Linked DNA regions of Homo sapiens. The protein of the gene in region 2 purifies or fractionates together with the protein of the main gene of each other region. This does not show direct contact. Each region holds a gene or a part of one and is shown on either strand. Other genes may lie near its edges. The genes, in order: JMY and PPP1R1A.

What was found.
Region 1: the proteins of PPP1R1A (region 2) and JMY purify together in Homo sapiens (affinity purification with mass spectrometry; 3 studies listed by BioGRID and IntAct, with this or other methods). This does not show direct contact.

Annotation. Positions count from the first base shown.
Region 1 is NC_000005.10:79,294,642-79,302,338, reverse strand, and holds part of JMY (junction-mediating and -regulatory protein), read right to left. Parts: intron 2,187-7,697; coding exon 2,021-2,186; intron 1,664-2,020; coding exon 1,476-1,663; intron 1-1,475. UniProt on the Homo sapiens protein: Acts both as a nuclear p53/TP53-cofactor and a cytoplasmic regulator of actin dynamics depending on conditions. In nucleus, acts as a cofactor that increases p53/TP53 response via its interaction with p300/EP300.
Region 2 is NC_000012.12:54,585,412-54,592,959, reverse strand, and holds the start of PPP1R1A (protein phosphatase 1 regulatory subunit 1A), read left to right. Parts: upstream 1-4,300; 5' UTR 4,301-4,471; coding exon 4,472-4,555; intron 4,556-7,548. UniProt on the Homo sapiens protein: Inhibitor of protein-phosphatase 1. This protein may be important in hormonal control of glycogen metabolism. Hormones that elevate intracellular cAMP increase I-1 activity in many tissues.

The DNA.
Region 1 (7,697 bases), on a different chromosome or scaffold from region 2:
CTAGCATACTGGTGAATTAAAATGAAATCAGACTTTCAATTAAGTCTGAATTGCATAGCATTTTCAAAAACTTGCAGGTTTGCAAATTCCGAGTCTCAAAAGTACTGCACTATACACCTAAAAGTAATATATAAAATACTCCTAATATTCCTCAAAAATGTGCTCTTCTGAAATCTTATTTACTTTTCATTCTCCCCTAAAACTGTTCTATAAGACCTGCTGAAATCACTGCAATGTTTTTTTTTTTTTTTTTTTGAGACGGAGTTTCACTCTTGTTGTCCAGGCTGGAGTGCAATGGTGCCATCTTGGCTCACTGCAACCTCCACCTTCTGGGTTCAAGCGATTCTCCTGCCTCAGCCTCCCGAGTAGCTGGGATTACAGGCGCGTGCCACCATGCCTGGCTAATTTTTTGTATTTTTAGTAGAGACAGGGTTTCACCATGTTGGCTGGTCTCGAACTCCTGACCTCAGGTGATCCACCCACCTCAGCCTCCCAAAGTGCTGGGATTACAGGCATGAGCCACCGCGCCCAGCCTGCAATGTTTACCTGGTTGGTGCAGATTGGAACGTGAAATGAAGCTCACAACCAGGGCTGACACAGCAGTGGGTTTCAATTACCACTGTCACGGGGAAATAGCAAAGGCACATAATTATGTGAAAGCCAGGGCTCTGGATGGCAAGGTAACTGTTCTGTTGATGGACAACGTGATAGAAGGTCCTGGGTTCTTGACTTACTGTGGATACATGCCTGTCTGAGTTTCTTTAATGTGCAAGAGCTATCTATTTCAAAAAGCAAAGGTATTGATTTTCTGTGGAATGAGGAAGTGGTAGCCTTGGAATGTGGTGAAGAGCAGGAAGGTGGGTTCTCAGAGAACATGACATACTTTTATAATACTTGAGCTTAAAGCGAATCAGTACCACACAGTCATCAGTTTGGTCTAGGTTGGAGAGCTAGTTCCAGATTCCAACTCTACACTTACAGTGACTAGAAACAGCTCCACGATAGTTAACATCTGGACTAGAGTGCAAAACATTTTTTAAGACACAGGAAGAATCACATTTCCACAAAATGAGTCATTCCAAATATCAAGAATCAAACATTCTAAAATGTAATCAAAGTTAAATAAAGAAATAACAATCTATAAAATTCTTTAAGGTCAGAATCAGGGCTTGTAAAAAACATCGCTGGGCCTCCTTAAATAAAAAGGGAGCCAGGAATCACATTATCAGGGATCCTGTAGTCAAGGCCTTTAGCAGAGTCACCATTAGTGTTTCTAGAGGTAAAGAGAACATCACTATTGGCTGTTCCAATGTGTTTAAGAGGGCAATTCTCAGAGCACTATAAACGCATTGAGCACTGATAAGAGATAGTGCTTACTTAGTTTTAAAACATAAGCAAGTTTTAAAGACAAAACAGATGAGATTAGTAGATACGGATAAAAGACTAAATAATGAACAAAAGCAATATTTAAATACCTTTTTATTTCTGAGGTAGGATTTCTTGGCAGAAACCCGTCCACGTCTTGCTTCCAGCTGGCGTGCTTTCTGCTGAAGTTTCTGCAGCTCTTCTCTCTGTAAGTACGCAGATGCTGCCATCTCTTCCTTCTCCAGCATGGCCTCCATGCTTTCGTAAGTGTCATAGTATACCACTTCATCTCTTTTTTCTGTTACAGAACAGCAAAAAAGAGTAGTGGTAAAGAATATGGGCTAGGGTTTGGAAAGAACAAGGTTCTAATCTCATTACTGGCTCTGCAACCTCAGGCAAAGCCATTATCTCTTAAGCTTCTTTGTAAGTGGTGATTATTATTTAATACACCTCATAGAGTGAATGTATGCAAAGTGTTTAGCAGTATCTGGCAAACAGTAAGTGCTCAATAAATGCTAGAAATCACCCCCCCACACTCTATCCCTACAGAAAACAATTTTTTAAATGTCTTAACAAAAGAAACATACCTAGTCCATAAGTATTTTCTCATGTATTCAATCTTTGGTGAACTTATGTGGTTAAATGCACGCCATACCTGATATAAGTCTTTTGATGCTTTCTAGTTGCGCTGTCAATAGTAACTCTTCACACTTCAAGATTTCAAACTGTACTTCATACAACTGAAGTTGCAGATCATAATAATCAGCTTCTAACTGATCCAATCGTGCTATCGCTTCTGTACCACCCCGCAAACTCTGCATCTGCATTGAAAATACAAATTAAAAAATTTCTAGCTGGTGGGGACAAGAAAATTGAGTTAGTATTAAAAATTAATACTAATCAGATAGCATAAACCTATTAAGTAATTCCTCTCAGAAAGAAACTTGTAGGCATGGAATCTAGACTTTAAAAATATATATATATATATGTATAAAACAGTAATAATCAAGTCATATTATATGGTGGAAGTAGGCAAACATGGTAAAAATAAGGTTTTAATGTTTATGTTATACTTATGCATATTTATGGTAATAATATATGTATCATCTGGATATAAATGCTTTCCCTCTCAAAAGTGGATGCTAAGTTATGTAGTTGTTCTTTTCACAGAGATATATGAAAATGACGGGGCTATTCTCAGATATTTACAAGAATGGTAAAAGCTGGTTAATGCCACATATCTGGGGTTTTGCTTTGCTCCATGGTCACAGACTGGCTAGGTTCTGGGATCTGCTGACTATAGAGTGAGGTGAGAATATGTGACTGGAACAGCAGAAGACAATTGCTTTAGATGGAAATCCTTGCAATCCGTAAGGTGTCACTTTAGGTAAATGTAATCAACGTCCTAGGCTGAACTTAAAGTGAGATCCAGAAATTTCTGGGCATGGCTCATAAAGTGAAGGATGGTCTTCTGTGAGGTTTGCTTGGTTGGTCAGTTCTCGGTGCTGGAGTGGGAAAATTTTTGCCAGGAATGAAGGAAACCACCAAGGGGAAAGTGTACTTTAGATAACTGGTTCCTAACCCTACTATTTCTATGGCTTTCTATTTGGCTGTACGGAAAAAGGCAGATAAAAGAAGCCAAAGGAATGGCTTTTCAAGAGTCAGTGAGATGTGAAGGACAAGCATAGTTCTCTAGAGTGAGACAGTAAGCATTCTTCCAAGAACATAGCACCACTGCTTTGGTAGTTTAAAGGTTCATGCTTAGCAGCTCCAGGAAAGCCCCGATACGGGCATCAGTGTGCCCTCAGAGCCAAAGGAGCAATAGTGAGGAGCCCTGGATTCAAGTGGCTTCCCAAGGAGTGACCTTCAAAGGAGGAGACGAGAGGAACAAAAGGGAAAATTATTAAGAGTATTGTTTACGAGCTCATGTGAGACATCACTGGGGTCCCAGAATACCAAAGAAATACTTGACTGGCTGTACAGGGACAACCTACAGGGAAAAAGACAGTGAATTCTTATTTTCCTAAATGATCCCTTTTGTCTGGCGAGGTTGGTAAAACCTGTCAGCACATAAAAAGAATACGTTTTAAAGAAAATTCCAGCTTTTGCTTTACAGTCTATATATCTACACAGTCTTACCCAATAATTAGAATATTTTTCCTTAAAATATAATTTCAAATCCCTTTCACAAGAATTTTGAACTGAAAAGCAATGGTTAGGCTCCAGTCTAAACGTGCAGTTGTAAAAATTTAAAAATAACCAGGTGAATTAAATACAGTGGTACTTTGTTTTATGAATATTTTATAAACGGATACTTAATAGATTATCTAAGTGTAAGACTGTGAGTGATCCCGCTGTGTTAGGAAATATTTTATGGGTGACAAACAACGTATATAACCCCAAAGTGGGTTTAATTATAGCAGCTAGGGAGGGGAATGTGAACAATATGAACTGTTGTTTTTGTCCTAAGTCATAAAATAAGAACCAAGGAATAATGTCTACCTTGAGACTCGTGGACTCGCCACTTTAGATGATAAACATCCCTTTTCATACTCTCTTGGGGCTCTTGCCCAGCTCTGCAAACACAGCTGTAGGATATACATTGTTCCAGTATCTGCACCCACACTCTCTATTACCACAGCATACAAACAGGTAAGATATCTAATGTTAGAAGGCTTTATTCTCAAGTGGGGAATCGTTAAGTTAAAACCTTAGTGTAAACCAGTCTAAAAACCTTAATCTAAGATTACTTTCCAGTGATATTGTTCAGATCCAGGCTGTGAGTTCATTTTCACTACTCTGGTTCTACCCAACTAAGTGACCATTTTCTGCTACGTTCATGATGCTCTGCTAAGTTCTTCCCCTAGCACTCTGTAAGTTTCTCTCTCCTGCCCAATCTCTTGGCTAAGGAAAAAAGTTGAAAGTCCCCCAGTGACATGCCTTTACGCTGTCAGCTTTCTCAACCACAAAGAGAACAGTACTCTGACTGCAGCCCAGAGCCAGGGTACTTTAAAAGCACTTGAGAAGCGCAGTGCTACCAGCACACACTCAATATCAAAAATCAAACTGAGAAAGGAAGTAGGTATTCTCTTACAAGCAGTGACCTCACCCTCAATTTTTTGGTTCGGTGAGTTCTATCTAGACCAAGAGTCCAGACGTGGATTTGCCAAGGGCTGTGGTCTAAAGATAACCAAAACCTCATCAGAGGCAGACAAGCAGTGAAGGAGTCTGTTAAATCCCAACCTCTGAAAGGACAAACAATAGGTCAGTGGTGGACTTTGGGAAAAGCTAAAGGGTTGTAGAACCAGAACATACAGGACTTTTATGAGATCAGCAAAGGAGAAAAGGATGCTATGACTCAGAGAAATCTGTGAGGGCAAAATAATACTCTGAGGTCTATCTAATCTTCAATGTGGAGGCAAAATCCTTAGTATAAGGCATGAAGAGGTATGGAGCGGGCACCCTGCTCCAAATTTCCTCCCTGTTTTAACATCTGAAATTTCCAGACTGAGTTTTCCTGTCCTCAGCTGACAGCCACAGAACTAAGAGAAACAGAATCCAGGGTGAAAAGAGAACTAATTCCAGATAATGGAGCAGTGCAGGGAAGGTGGGTGCCACAATGGGGTGTCTTTTTTATATCTGAGAGCAGTGCTTCCCTGGGCAAGAAGAAAGAAGCCCTGAAAGTAGTTTAAATACTCAAAGGAAAAATTGGCCATCTTAAAATTTAACTTAGCTCAACTTTTACTCTCCTAAACATACTTCAAGTATCAGGATACCAGTACCCCAAACCAAATTGTAACCTCCCAATGTGATCCAGGTAATGACTAGCAAAGTTTGAGCTAGACTCAGTTCTCCTGATTCCTACAAGAGTGCTCTTTCCACTAGAAAAAATTAGGGATTACCAGCCCAAAAAGACGGAAAAATATCAAAGTGTTATTGTTATTGTTTTACAGCAAATCTAGTAAGGGGATGAAGTACCAATTCATGTCCATACATCCATGTAAGTACAACATACCCTGCTGACTCCACAATCATTCTCACCATGTGTAATAATGATAAAGTAGTTTTCATGTATACCTATTTTGACTGTACTTTATCATGAAACCAGATGGCACTTTTTGCAAACTATGCAAATGAATTATGCCCTTGTTCTGCCTTTTACCCTACTGTGCTAGAAAATTCCAATGACATTAGAGGAACTATTAAAAGAGCTACCTGTGGACTGAATCATTCATTCAAAAAATACTCACTGAGCATCCACCACTGTTTGAGTTACAGAAAATATGCAGTCAACAAGAAATGAAATGAGGGTTCGAAAATAAGTCATAGCTAGGCATAGTGGCATGTGCCTGTAATCCTAGTGACTTAGGAGGCTGAGACAGTAGGGACTCTGAGTCCCAGGAGTTTGAGCTTGTGGTGAGCTATGATCGTGCCACTGCACTCCAGCATCGGTGACAGGGCAAGGCTATATCTTTTTTTTAAAGGGTCATAAAAACCTTGGACAGCATAAGGTGAATGATGTTAAGGGCAAGTTTTCAACCAAAACTAGCCCTATTATGTAGAAAGAATGAACATGAGAATTAGTAACAGACAAGCCTGAGTATAAATACAGGTTTCACCAGTAACAACTGCACAAATATGGGTAACACAAGTTGACAGAATTATCTGAATTCCACATGTCAGAAATCCTGGAAAATGGAAAATTCCCATAATTTAATGTCAAACCAAATCTCACAATCCATTTGTGGAAAAATGTGATCTGAACTTTTCATAAACTATTTTTAATCCTTAGGTATTCCATTTAATGTGACCATGTGTTTCATTAGTGGACTAATAACACTTGTCTGAAGTTATATGCTCTATCTTACCTTTCTAAAATCTAAAAAAACCCTGGGATTCTGAAATATATCTGTCTTCAGGGAATTCAGATAATGGTTTTGGGCTTATAGCATAAAAGGTTATGTTTGAGAATTTAACAAGATAATACACATAAAGCACTAAGGACAGGGACTAAAACATTTTAAACTTTAACTGCTGCCAAAACAGAATTCATATGGTGAAAACAGAATTTAAGATAAACTAAGGCCTTTAGAGTGGAACCTACCTTTTTGTATTTAGACTCTTTGAAATATATAGTGTGCACCTATGGAATAATCTACTTATTGACAAATAAAATGAAAACTAAAAACCAATCTCCTTGCCTGGACAAGGACCTCAAAAACCCCACCTCAGCTCAGACTCAGGCTGTGTCTACCACATCACAGCTTCTTACTATTGGAAGTTTCTGGCAAGGCCCATACAAAATGTCACATCACCTAGTCAACAGCATGCTTTGTGAACCCTGAAATGTTGGTTGAGGCAAGTAAACATCTTAAGCATGGAAATTATGTATCTTTTTCTTCTCTGTATTCCCTTCTGGGATACTGGCACAAAACATAACATACAATTATAGTAATAATCACTAATATTTATCCAGGTCTTACTCTATGTCAAGTGCTATAGCAAATGCTTTATATGCATTAACTCATGAAATCATAACATTCCAGAAGGTATATAATATTTACATTTCAAAGACAGGTTAAGGAACTCACTGAAGCTTTCCTAAAGAGTTAAGTTTGCAGAACTGAGATCTATAGAGGTGCTCTGTTCAGTAAGGTAGCCACAAGCCACATGTGGTTATTTAAATTTAATTTAAAATGCTGTTCCTCTGTTGCATAAGCCTCATTTCAAAAGCTCATTAGCCACATATGGCTGAAAACTACCCTACTGGAGAGGGTAAACATAGAACATTTCCATGATTACAGGGCGTTCTGCTGGACAGCACTGTCCAAATCCTAAGCTCATATCCACCATGGTATATAATCAATGCTCAATAAATACTTGACGAATTAAAACTGAAAGAGGGGAATATAACCTTAGTTAATCATAATTTAGCTACATGCTTGTAGGAGAAAGACAAAAATAAGTAGCTAATCTTCAAGACTAGTATGCATTCATATTCTATTAGATTATGTATGTTCAGAGAAATTATCAAGGAATTATAAATAGATGGGGAATTGTTAAAATCCTCTGCCAGGGAAAGAAAGCACACTGATATACCTTTTTTTTTTTTTTTGAGACAGAGTTTCACTCTTGTCGCACAGGCTTGAGTGCAGTGGCATCATCTCGACTCACTGCAACCTGTGCCTCCTGAGTTCAAGCTATTCTCCTGCTTCAGCCTCCCGAGTAGCTGGGATTATAGGTGCTCACCACCACATCTGGCTAATTTTTGGTATTTTTAGTGGAGACAGAATTTCGTCATCTTGGCCAGGCTGGTCTCGAACTCCTGACCT
Region 2 (7,548 bases):
CTACTCGGGAGGCTGAAGCAGGAGAATCGCTTGAACCAGAGAGTCGGAGGTTGCAGTGAGCTGAGATCGTGCCACTGCACTCCAGCCTGGTGACAGAGCGAGACTCTGTCTCAAAAAAAAAAAAAATGCATCTCAAGAGGTCATCTAGTCCATGACCCTGCTTTAGGTTCAGCCATTACCCTGCCATGGCCACCAAATCTGGTTTACTGGGGAAAGTGCTGGCCTGGCTTCTGGACCTTGGAAGAGCTGTTCCTCCCCATTGCCTTGATTTCTCCTCTCTAGCCTGAAGGGTTCAACTGGCTGTTCTTGAAGTCTCTTTCACCCTACCAGTGGATTTGGGGATTCATGAAGAGGCAAAGCACTTTGAAAATGAGCATCCCCTCTGTTTGAATCACCAGCTCTGGCCCCATTCCCAAGACTGCCAGCTGCAGGGAGGGTGTGCACTCAAGCCTGACAGAACTGCAACTCTGGGCTTTTCTCACAGGCAAACCAGGACTTGCACAGTCAGAGGAGGCTGGACTTCCAAGTCATCCCCTAGGAGGCCACCCATCTCCTCCAATGCTGCTTCTGGGGCTCACGAGAAGCTCTGGAAACTTCTTGCAGGGAAGTCTTCTAGATGGGCTCAAAACCCCGCAGGACAAACAGTCTCACTGCCGGGCACCTACATCTCTTTTCCAGATGAAGGCTTACTCCCCACCTGGCCTCCCTCTGTCTTCACAAGGGTTGGCTCCTAAAGGCTATTGGTCATTTCCAAAGGAGCAAAGCCACCCTAAAAGACAATGATTCACCCCCCATGGGGATTTTCAGAGCATATGCCTCAAGCTCTGAGATGATTCCAAGAGTTTCCAGAAATGTTTGAGAAACTGCAGCACGTTGGCATGAGCATATGGCTTCCTGGGGGACCACTTGGATGGGGTCGCTGCTCCTTTGGGTGCATAACAGCAGTCTCTGCCCTTATCTCCTCAGAGCTGTGTGTATAAAAAGTGTGTGTGCATCATGTTGTCAACAAGCCGGAGTGTGCCTCTGCCACACTGCCCAGGCAGGGAGAAAGGCAAAGATACAGATAAGGTCCTGGGGCTCCTGGGTTCTAACCCTGTTTCTGAGACATGCTGGCTGTGTGACAGGAGCACCCTCAACTCAGAATAACAGAATATTAGAGCAGAAGAAACCTGCAAAGTCACCCGGTCCCCTTCATTTTGAAGATTAGGAAACTGAGTCCGGTTGGGGGTTGGGGGAGCAACCCCAGAGTCACCCAGAGAGTTGATAGCAGATGGAGGAATTGAACCCTGACCTTTCATATCCTGGCCCAGGTGGCCCATCTTAGCAACACCTCTCTACACTACCCTCCCCTCGAGAAGCAAAATAAACACCCTAATACCTGTCCTCCCTCCTGGGTGGTTGTGAGGGTTAGTAGGGGTGAGAAGGGTGGATAGATAAAAACAGAAAGTGCTGACAGCGACAAAGAGCAGCCCCATTAACCCAGAGTCCAGTGCCGAAAATAGGGGAGGGTGAGAGTCATTAAGTGACTGCATCACCCAGTCACATCCCTGTAACTTTAAATATTTCATGGAGCCAGCAGTGCACCACATACAGCTGCTGCTCCTCCAGCCCAGGCTGTGACTGCAGCAGGGCTGTGAACACAGGCGCCTAACATAGAAACATGCAAGCTGAGGGAAGGAGTTGGGATGAGGCAGGCTCTAACTCTTACTCACTCTAGGAAAGGTTCCAAGAGCAGGCATCAGGCCCTTTGCAGTGCCCCAGGCCTGTGTGTGAGCAACCCATACCTTCATACACCCACCGGCCCAACAGGCACTCACATAGCTATGGACATAAATAAAAGTCAAAATGACAATAAACACACACCTTCACAGACAGACCCATTCCAGCTTACCCGGCACCAAAGGCTGCACCCAGCCACACTCCACCTCCCTGCTAACCATAAACGCTTCGCCCACTTTCCCCAGTCTCCTCCTCCCAAAGCCAGTACTGGGAGCCATCCCTCTTCCCTCTCCCTCCTCTCTCCTCCGCTGCCTCTACCCCAGCACCAGCTGCTGCCGGGACCCCTCTTCCCACGCAGCCCCTCATCAGCCATCTCTCCAGAGCTCAAGCTCTCTTGGTCTCTCTCCTTACCCGTGGCTTTCAGGACAAAGGACTCTGAGAATCCGGGACTTGAGAAGGCAACATAGGGTGGGTGAGAGACTTGGGGAGGAATTTCCATGACCAGACCAAAGTTTGAGGGAGAGCACGGAATACGAAAGAGGACTAGGCAGCCTGGATGTCTGGGGTGGGGGTGGAGAGGTAACCACTCTGAGAGGTGACCACCCCTCAACTCTGCCGTCCTGCCAGGAAATAACAATAAAACCAGCAGCTACAATTAACCGTGACCTTCTATGCACCAGGTACTCTACCCAAGATGATACTCAACCCTAGGAGGTGGGATCCTCTGTCTGTTTTACAAATGAGATGGAGGCTCATGAGAGAAGCCTGAGTCCCCAGACATAGGGATGTGGGAATCCTGGCTTCACATCCCATGGTCCTGGTAGAATGGGATGGGGAATAGACAAGTCACCTATTTAGAGGATATTTGGGATCCTGCTCTGTGGATGTGTGGTTAGGAGGTGGGGTGAGTAGGAAGGAGGCCAGAGCAAGCAACTGGGCCCTAATGAGCCAGGTATCTCCCTAGCCCCCAACCGTTATCCTCTCTGCTTCAGGGCCTTCACGATCTCTTTCTCCACTGTCACTTCTTGTGGGGGGATCTGCGCAAAGGTTGGGAATGGAGACGGGGAAGCCCAACCAGCTGTTTTCCACCTGGCCCTGCCACACCAGAGAGCAAAGGGGCCCTGCAAGTGCAGGCTGGGTGTCAGGAGTCAATCCTGGAGTCCAGGTGACAGCAAAACAGGGGCCAGTTAACCTGCAGACAGAGGTCCAGCTGGCCCACTGGGTCCCCATAACCCCAGCCTTACCCTGAGAAAACTGAGCCCGACATGTGTAAAAAGATATGGCTGGGGGGAAGGCAGGACAAGTTATTTTGTGAGGTTAGAGGGGAAGGGGCCTTGTGAAATCAAGGTCTGGAAAGGGCTGCCCAGGAGAGGAGGCAACTGAGAGTTGAGGCTGACACCTTAGAGGAGAAGATGACCATATGGTTCTCCAAGAACCAGGCATGAATCTGTATGGCACTTGCCAGTTGCTTGGTTTAAGGCTAAAGAGACAGACCCCTTCCCCTCTTCCAGGACTCCCTGTGCCCTCCTCCCCATCCCCAGTTCTTCTCTCCACCTTCTCCTCCCGAAAAGATGCATCCAGCCCTACCCCTCCCCAGTGCCCAGCACATCCCCTCCCCCATCTAGTGATCCCCAGTCCTTAGACCGAGCACACCAGCTCCTGTGAATATCCTGTCTCCCTCACTGGCTCGTATTGACTGGCATCTTAGTCTTCCACCAAACTAGTCAGTTCTTCCCATAGTCTAACCTCCATTCCTTCAGTTACAGCAGCTCGTTTTCAGTATCCTGCCAATAGTGAAATTAGAAACCAACCCTATCTGTAAACAAGCCACCCCACCAAAGGAGTTTCTCTCTCCCTCCCCAGGCATTTTCCCCTTGCAGGCCTTTCACCTACTTTACCATCCCCTAATTTAGCAAGCAGAAAGAGAACTCGATTTCACAAGCAGGATTGGCTCCCCACCATCGTTATTCCTTTTGTCGAGTCCCAGATGGTCCTCTCTCCCCAAGCCCTCCACCCACTCCCACAGGCACTTCGAGAGAAACGCGCCCTCCGGAGACCCTCTGAAGTCTTCAGTTTCCTCTCCCTGGCACTGAGGGAACACAGGACGGGTGTGCAGACTTCGTATTTCCCTCCAAGTTTTTACCTCCGCCTAGTGTTTTCCTTGCAAAGGAAAGTCCCTCTCGAAGTCTAACCTTAATCCCTCCTGCTGCATGCCTAAATCCCCTTTCCATCTTTTCTCTATAATACAACCCCCTTTAAAATCATAAATGCAATCTTCCTCTCGCGTTTAGTCTCCTCTCCTGCAGCGCCCCTCTACTTTCCTAGCCCCAACAACCTGCTCCGGCTAGGAGAAGTTCTTCCTAGCCACTCCCCACCCCAACGCCCTGCCCAAAACTCCGAGGACACTGAGGTATCTGCCTGAGCTGTCCACTACGACGGCTCCCGGGCCACGCCCGGACTCGGCGGCCCGCGGGGCGGTGACCCCCGCAGCCGCCGGTGCAGCCACGACGGGGTTAAGGTTCCGGGCTGGGGGAGGGGGAGGGGGCCGGGAGGGGCGGGTGCGGAGCCAATCGGCGGCGGCAGAGTCCCCGGAGCCGCGAGCTGGGAGCGCTGTGCCGGGAGCCGGGAGCCGAGCGCGCCGGGCTGGGGCCGGGGCCGGAGCGGAGCGGAGAGGGAGCGCGCCCGCCCCAGCCCCGAGTCCCGCCGCCTTCCCTCCCGCCGCAGCGCGGGCCCACCGGCCGCCGCCCCAGCCATGGAGCAAGACAACAGCCCCCGAAAGATCCAGTTCACGGTCCCGCTGCTGGAGCCGCACCTTGACCCCGAGGCGGCGGAGCAGGTGCGGAGCAGGGCGGGGCGGCAGGGCACTCGCCCAGCCAAGGACGAGGGACCCCTGGACTGGTGGGACCCAGGATCCCTGCCTAGTCCTCCCTTAGCAGTGCGCCCTTTTGAGGACGAACGCTCAGTTTGCGGGGGGCGGGGGGGGGTCTTCTGTCCCCTCCCCCACCGTCGGAGCCACATCTCGAATCTGTGCTTCTTTGAGACTGACCGAAGGAAGAGCGCCTCCACTCGATGCCTGGCCCCGCGAGAGTCGCTCTCTTCCTCCCCAGTCCTGGGGGAGGGGGCCTGCTTGAGGACACGACCCCTCCCTCCTTAAACAACCCTGCATCCCCCACCCAGTCAACCCCCACTAGAGTTTCTGAGCTTGGTGGTGGCGCTGAAGGGAATCAGCAGCAGTGCGGGAGGGGCCTGGGGAGGGGTCGGTAATGGAGAGGGAGCCTGGAAGGGTGGGAGTTGGAAGAGGAGAAACAGCTCTCCCTGTCCCCTCCTAACTGGGGGCCACCTTGCTGGGCTCCGAAAGTGATAACAGGAAGGGACTGAGGACCACTGAGAGGGCTGGGGCTCCAGGGAGAGGGGAGAGGGGTGGTCGAGTTGTAGGCTGAGGCTCCCTTCTTCAAGTCTCCGCACATGGCCCTTATTCCCAACTCCTGCCCTTTGGAGTGGGGAGTCCAGGTGGGACTGAGCCAGCAGCACTGGGAGGCCAGAGGTGGAGTCTTTCCAGGGGCTGGGGTCCAAGCTGAACAATATGCAAGGGAGAAGCACTGTGACAGCCTTGGCTCAAGGGGTGGGAGTCCAGGGCCCTGGCCCAGCCTCCTAGCCTGGTCTATTTTTAGCTCAGAGCAGCCTGGCAGAGGGGGCAGTGTATGAGAGTGTGTGAGCAAGTGTATGCCTCGGTGAGAGTGAGCGTATGTGTGGAGAGGGTGGCCACCCGTGGTCCTTACTACTCCTTGTTTGCCAAATATTTGCTTATTTGCCTATTGCTCCATCTCTTTGTAATCTCTGTCCATTTGCCTAGACATTCCCATTCCTAAAGAATATCAATTTCCCACAAGGTCAGTTCTCTGTTTCTCTCAACAAGCTGCCAGGCTCTGGCTGGCCACCCCCAACCTGAAAAAAACTTTGTGACCTCTTGGGATGAGGTGGAGAGAGTGTTTTTTGTCATTTTTGTTGCTCCAGCTGTTTGGTAGAATAAGGTCTGATGTGAAGGGAAGCGGGCAGGGGTACACACTCTCCCTACCACTTCAGCTTCCCAATGTGGAGATAGGGTTAGGTACCTGCGTCTCCGTCCTCTCTCTGGCCTGGGGTGAGCCACCACCTCAGAGCTCTAAGGTGTGACTACGGGAAGGCTCTTGGTGAAGCCTCACAAATCTGTAGAGGATGAGGAGGATGGAGAGCCATCAGCATGGGTTGTGTTCCCTGGGAGTCAGGGGAAAGGCTGCTATGCCTGGAGGCAGGGCATCAGCCAGGATAACCTCAGACCCAGGAAAAAGGGCTCAAGAGTCTGGACTGTGGAGGTTGGGGATGCAGTTCCAAGGAGAACTGCCTCCCACTGGCACAGACAGGGCCCGACACCTGTATCTGTTGGGTGTTGGAGGAGGCAGGTGTAGTAGGTGGGTAGGGAGGAGGAGGAGGAAGGCCAGCTGGTTCAGGGATCTAGGAGACAAGGGAGGGGCACAAGGCAATCCTGAGGAGTCAGAGGGAAAAAAGAGAGCCGGGACTTGGGCCTACTTTCACTAATCTTCAGAATTTGTGTCTCTTAGGCCTGAAATTCTTCCTGTGGCCTAACCTCAGCCCCTCCTGCTGTGTTAGGCAAAAAGCTCCAGGCTTGGCAGGTGCTCCTAACCCAGACCAACATGGGAGGGCAAAAGGAGTTGGAAGCTCTGAGTTATAGAGCACAGAGTGGCAGGCGGTGGAGGGGTGCCCACAGCTTCCAGATCCTTGGCATGACTGCTTTGGAAAGAAATCCGAGGCGAAGTTATCACATGCTCCTGAGAGCTAGGATTTGGGATAGGTATGAGAAAAGGAAAAGAGACCATCTACTTATTTCCCACTAGTTCAGGTGCCTGGGAGGTACCTCAGGAAGTCTGACTTTCCTCCTTCCTGCTGTAAGGGTATCACGATTCCCAAGGACTCTGAATGCTTAGAAACCTTGTCCAAAGCAAAGGAATAGGTCAAGGAAGTGATGTGTCCAAGACCAGACAGCCCTGCTGCCCTCTGTCATACTTGCAGTCTCTTTCTTGGGCTCCCCACTCTGATGTTATCTCAACCCACTGATCGCCACTCCACCCTCCTTGTCTCTTTCCTACTACCACCACCACACCCTGCCCCTCCAGGATGGAAAGAAGTAGAGGAGTCTTCTAGTTGAAGGATGGCCCCCACCCCATATACATGAAGCAGATGGTCCCCAGCCCATGTGTATCAGGAATGACCAGAGACGACTCACAGTTAATGTCTGTGCGGCTCATCCATGTGCACACTTACACACATACACAAAGGACTGGTACTGCGGGGACCTTGCAATGTCACCAAAAACAGATGCCACTGAATTCTCCTGGGAAAATGATGCCCTACCCCCACATACCCCCATTCTTTGCATCCTGTTTCTTCTTTGGAAAGAGTTCCCCCCTCAGGCTTAAACAGCCCATCTTACCATAGCCAGTACCCCCCACTTTTCTGGGCATAGAGAGGGGCAGTGTTCACCTCTGTCATCCCCCCACGGCCAGTGGTGATGATTCTAAATAATGGACATGCAAAGATAAGGGTTTGATCATTCAGTGTCCTCATCCTACTCCTCTCAGCCCAGGATAATTCTAGCCCTTTTCCCAGCCCCATTTGCCTTCCCTCCCCACTGCTAACCTAGAGGGTCATCCTCTAACCCCCATCCTTCCACTTGCTTCCAAGCCTCTAAAGCCTCCAGAGAAAGGGGGAAAACTACACCTCCCAGGAGTCCTTGAACTGACTTCAACAACAATCAACTTTATTGGCAGCGTG